2 separate regions of the Homo sapiens genome follow, and region 1 is linked to region 2. The links come from fine-mapping of genetic effects on gene expression. A gene starts in region 2. The other region holds a variant in brackets. All regions are shown on one strand. Distances are from middle to middle.

The links.
Region 1: its variant is fine-mapped to the expression of RCHY1 in whole blood (TOPMed, PIP above 0.99).

What each region holds. Positions count from the first base shown.
Region 1 is chr4:75,480,914-75,483,838 of GRCh38, forward strand. It overlaps RCHY1 (ring finger and CHY zinc finger domain containing 1), which reads right to left. Exons shown (of 9, transcript NM_015436.4): 9 at 1-1,753. The coding sequence ends at 1,625. Among named protein-coding and RNA genes, the nearest start is that of RCHY1, 32 kb to the right of the region's middle. The variant C/T (reference allele first, on the strand shown) is at 1,296.
Region 2 is chr4:75,512,630-75,515,554 of GRCh38, forward strand. It overlaps RCHY1 (ring finger and CHY zinc finger domain containing 1), which reads right to left and starts at 1,774. Exons shown (of 9, transcript NM_015436.4): 1 at 1,568-1,774. The coding sequence starts at 1,657. THAP6 (THAP domain containing 6) reads left to right here and starts at 1,844. Exons shown (of 5, transcript NM_144721.6): 1 at 1,844-1,891; 2 at 2,804-2,903. The coding sequence starts at 2,824. RefSeq lists enhancers at 883-1,813, 1,500-1,979, 1,814-2,744, 2,320-2,539.

The DNA of each region.
Region 1 (2,925 bases), 32 kb before region 2:
CCAGGAAGTCAAGGCTGCAGTGAGCTACGATCACTTCACTACACTCTAGCCTAAATGACAGAGCAAAACCACTTCAAAAAAAAGTATTAGATCTGGAAAACTAGTCTTTACTTATCTGTATACTAATTGGTAATACCCAGGAACATCCTTTCCCAAATGAAGATCAGCACTGCTGCTCTGGCCAGGCCAAGGAAACAGATGAAGGGAAAGAACATAAGAAGAGTGGAATACAGAAGACAAGAAGGTGGGATAAAATAAAGATCTGAGTCCCAAACTGCTGCCTTTATCTAGGTGAATAAATTTCAACAAAAGAAGAAATAAATGTGCCAGAACTCTTAGGCTTTCTAGTTAAAAGGCTAACTTCCTTATTCAAAGAAGATTCAAATAGCTCAAAGTTGGAAATACAACTGGTGCTCAATAGGTACTTATCAACTGATAAATGTACATTTTACATCCTAGCCTAATGGTAAAGCTATTACGGAGATAACAGTGTCAAAGTCGGCTGGATCATCAAACATATTTGTTAACTTTGTTCCTGAAGTAAGAGGTATATTTAATTCCACTACATGAGCCCAAAAAAGTATTATGAAATCAGAGATCTTGCCAGGAATATCCCATGCCCTTCCCACTCATCCATCCCCTATTTTCACACGCTTAGGGAAGAAATATTCTATTCATTTACAATAAGACATCCACTCCTTGCATAAAGAAAAATGAGTACATTGATCAAATATGATGAACAATAGAATGTACTGCTGTGAGGACAAGGACTTTTATCTTTATTGTTCACTGTTGTCTCTACAGCATCTAGAAACATATCTGCCACATAGCAGTTGCTCAATAAATACTTGCTAAATGAAGGAATGAATGACTCTTTGAAGAAATAATTTTGGGCAACCTAAAAAAAACTGTTTTCAATGTTGATGTTTTTATTAAGGCTTTGGAAGAGTCTTATTATTTTACATAATAATTTTCCCAACTACTTTTATGGAATACCTCAAAAGAAAGAAAATTTCTTTTACATTATAGAACTGATGATACTGCCCTAATTGAGCCAAACATAGAAAACTTTGGAAAAAACTTTCTATAAAACAGTTTCAATATAATTTTATTAGCAGTTATTACATCAAAATTCACATTTAGAGGATCCAGAGGACTGTCTTAGAAAATTCTAAAGCATATTTAATTAGGTTTTAACAGTAAGGGAGAACTTAATATAACACAGCCCTTAAAAAGTCAAGACTACTACTGAAAATTAAGTGCAGTTCTATCAAGAACTAGAAATGAACTGCACG[C/T]GTAGTGTCACTTAAAGCAAAGCTTCATGAAAATATAATACACTTCTATGAATGTATCAGTGGCAAACATCATTGGCTTCCAAAAAACTGACACTAAAGGAATTTCCAATCAAAACACAAGCACAGTGGCTTTCATTCAATATAGAGCTATGATAAGTCTATCAAGAGACCCTGAATCCTTACGTACTTGTAATATGATTTTATGCTGTGACACTAGTACAAAACACATCAACTCTAATGCATAGATGACGACACATGATAACACGATACCAAGGAAAGCCTTTTTCTATATCAGAAAATGCCAAGTTCTCCAGTACTGTGTAGGCTCGTCATTGCTGATCCAGTGAAATTCTACGTCCTCCAGCTTGAGCAGTATTATAGGATTCACAAATCTTACATTTCATGCCTAATATATGAAACTGAACAGTGGATCGTCCATTACAGTCATTGCAGAGAATCTGAAAAGAGATTAATTCAAATTAAGTATTTTAAACCTTATAAATACAAGTAGCATTGTCTACTCATAATCCCTTGAAAATCATATTAAAGATGTGAAAATACATACATAAGTCTAAAAATTTCCAAAAGTAGAAATTTCTTCTTATTTTTTCACTGAAAACTCTAAAAAGCTATTAAGGTGGCTCTGAATTCAGAAAATGAAAAGGCAGATTTGAGCAAAAAAAAAGCTTATTTTAAAATAGTTTCCAAATATTAAATAGTATAAATAGTACAAGCAAGAAAATTAACCTAGGCATAATCAGATGAATACCTGATACTTATAATTCAAAATAACAACATGATTTCATTATTTTTCAGTCAGAAATGTATCTCAATTAATAAAACCAAAATTTTTACACAAATAATATTTTTGCTTATTTTTTAGGTTTAGTATACTGTTCCCTGTCTTCTCTGCCTTAGGAATGAATTAAATTCCAAAAAGAGTGTTCCTAAAATTGAGTAAACAGAGAGGCTCTTCGCTCATCCCTACAATAACAATAAGATGCCGTTTAAGAATTAATTTCTTCTAGTGCTAAGTAAGAACCTGAAAAATAACAAAGGTGTTAACCTGAAAATCAATACATTACTATGCAAGAAAAGCACTAGTTTTTGAATAGTCACACTATAATAAGCAGAAAATTTCCAAATTTGCTCTAAATTATAATTTGGAAAATAATTATTTAAAAAATATGATCTAAATGGAGAAAGTGGATTAGTGGTTGCCTAGGCCTGGGGCGTTAGGGAATGACTGCTAATGGGTATGAGTGTTTCCTTTTTGGGATGATAAAAATGTTCTAAAATTGTGGTGATGTTTGCATAACTACATGAATATTTTAAAAAGCACCAAATTGTACAATTTAAATGAATGAACTATATAATATGTGAATTGTATCTTAATGAAGCCATTATTTCCAAAAATTATCTACATGGAACATAGCACACTTCGGCCTCTAGTCAATCACATGATTATCGGTTAGTATTCCAAAAGTGATTTTTCATTGCCCTAACAATTATCCACATGAATTATGAAACACTCCAGTGTAAATAAAACAAAAAATAATTTTCATTTGGCTTTGCTACGTGGTTTTTATCCTCGTATGCTGAAGTATCTGAAGATGTTCAGAAAATGTGT
Region 2 (2,925 bases):
ATCTCCCAGCAACCACATCTTTTTTTTGCTCCCCTTTACAGCTAAACCCCAAGAATACCCTATAAGTGCTATTTTCAATTCCACTCCTCCCATTCTTTCCTAAATTCACTCTAATCCTGATCTCTCCACTAAAACTCCTCTTGTCAAGATCACCAGTGACCTCTTCCTTGCCAAATCCAAAGGGCAATTCTCAGTTATCTTACTCAAACAGCTGCATTTGACCCAGCTGACCACATCCTCCTTGAAATACTTCACTTGGCCTCTGGTATTTAAGGGGGGGGGGGGGGCGGGGGAAGGCAAAAACTGTTTGACACCTAGGGCGAAGTATCTTAGTGCTATGATACACAGATCTAATTGTGTGGTTTATGGGGGGCACCAAGATGTTAAATTCCGTTTTAGACCTCAAGTTTGAAAGAATAATAATACATCTCAGTAGAAATTGAATCATAAGGATAGCATTCAATTTCCTTACACAACACTTGGTGGATGACCAACATTTTTAAGGAGCTTCATCCAGTTCAGTGGAGCAATGTTCGTCAAGCCATGACCTATAGAAAAGAGTTTAGGATGCACGTACAGGCCTGAGACTTGAACTTGCTTCTAATAATGAGGCAGTGACCAGCAAGGCTGACTTGTGAAGTGAAAGAACAAAAAATAATAATACTCAGATTGACGATGATAGTAACAGTCATGGTGGTATATATTTACTACTCATTTACTTCAGGGAATGCGCCCTGTTAAACACTATACACGCCCTTTAGTATATAATCCTCATACACTTTTATGAAACAGGCGCGATCATCTCCATTTTACATACGGGGTAGAGAGGAGCTAGCTAAAATCAGTTATTAAAGAGGAGAGCTAAGATTTGGGGATAGGGCGGTTGAGGTTCCAAAGCTCAAGTTTTCTAAGCAAAATTTTTGTACTGTTTCTTGCAAGGAAAATCAGGAAACTTCAATTGAATACGTGCCAATTTAAAAAAAAATACAGATTAAGAAGTTTTCTCAGAGTAACAATACATGCTTATTAGGCACTTTCCTATGCATAATTTCCTATTTAATGGCAATTACATGATTGTCTTCTTTTTTGGGACACACGTTTTCTCCTACGTCTGAACATGTGCACTGCCTTTAACATGAAGCTGGCAGGCTATAAAACTTTACCACAGGAGCTGAAATCGTATTCGGGTTCTCCACTTGCTTATTTCCATTATCTCCACTTCCATTATTTCATCACACACCTGAACGGAAAACCCCAGTACAGGCCCGGGGCTGCCTCAGTCTACTTCGGCAGCAAAAGACGAATAAGCCCACTGGCAGAGACCACTGTGCAAGCCTAATCACTTCCCAAGAAGGGTTTTGCTTTAAAGGTACGAAGCAGGTAGGAAAGGTGGGGCTTATCGCCTTGCCAAAAACGTTCTCCTCAAGAAGAACCCAGTTCCAGGTGGAAAAGGTATCCTGAAAATCAGGTTAACCTCAAACTTAAATCCAAGCCTAACCACCTGCCCAGCCCGCCCCAGCCCAACCTGACGGAAGCTTGTCAGGGAAGAGTCCATAGAAGGCGTCACCTTTAGGAGACATCCTCTGTCATAGTGCTCGCAGCCCCGCTGACCTCGCTCTTGACCGCTGGCGCCATCTTCCCGGGCCGTCGCCGCCATCTCCTCCACCTCCCCTCACATTCCACCGATCCTTCCCCCAGGATAAAAACCACGCCCAGAGAAGCTGCGCCTCTCTAGCACACCCCTCCCAGCCCCAGCGGCCACTAGCGACAATATGGCTCCTAAGCACGTGACCCGGGGCAGACGGATTTCCGGTTCCCGGGGCTACGAGGCGGAAGCGAAGGCAGACGCAGTCTCCGTCGTTGACGTTAGTCGCAGTCTTCGCTGCTAACGGTAATAACTCTTAGGTTGCCTGTTTTCCCCCAATCGCTACCCGCCCAAATCTCAGGGCGTAGTTCGGCGCGAGGTTGGCGGCAGCGGCGCGGAGACGCTGGTTGGCCCCAGAGGAAAGGACGCTCACTGGGCGCATCGTTACCTGTGACGGGTCCTCCCTCTCTCCCTCCGGTGGCGGGGAGCCTGGAGAAAGGGGCGGAGCTCGGCCCGGGCCCTGGGCTCAGCGGGTCCCGCGCGCTGCTCTTGGACGCCAGGGTGCTCGCTGGCACCTCGAAGTGCTTCTTGCTTCCTCCCTTTCCCGTTTACTTGCTGTTCTTTCAAAATATGTACTGACATTCACTATTGCCAGTCACCAGCTAAACCGTGAGGACAAAAAGTAAGGAAAAATAGACACACTCCACCATGACCTCATGGAACTAACAAGACTGGTGGAGGAGGAAGACATTAATAAGAGCAATCACTGCAATAAATGTAAGATTACAACCTGGAGAAGTGCTAGGAAGAAGTGTGTGTCCTGTGAGAGCTAATATTAGAGCAGCTCTGACAATCTGAGTGTCAGTGAGGGAAGGCTTCCCTGGGGAAGCGATGCAAGCCGAGGGCTGAAAGATGGGTAGGAGTTAGTGTGCAAAAGGCTTTGTGGCACAAAGAACATGGTACCTGTTAGAAGGTGGAAGGAAAATGTACAAGCCAACAAAATTGAAATCATACTCGGGGTACACAGCTAAATATGTTTCTCCTTATTAAAGAGTCAAGGCCCTGGAAAATGATGTAAGCAAAGCTGCAGGTGTTAGAAGAAGATATTTGTCTTTAGCTTTCTATCCTGATTTTGTGTTTCCTAAAACACCGGGAAAGGGAAAATATTCCCCTTCAGCTTTCCGGTTACTAACTCTTAACATTCTAATTTTCTTTCAGTTTTGTTATGAGTTGCTAAAATGGTGAAATGCTGCTCCGCCATTGGATGTGCTTCTCGCTGCTTGCCAAATTCGAAGTTAAAAGGACTGACATTTCACGTGTAAGATTTTGCTGTAGTTAAG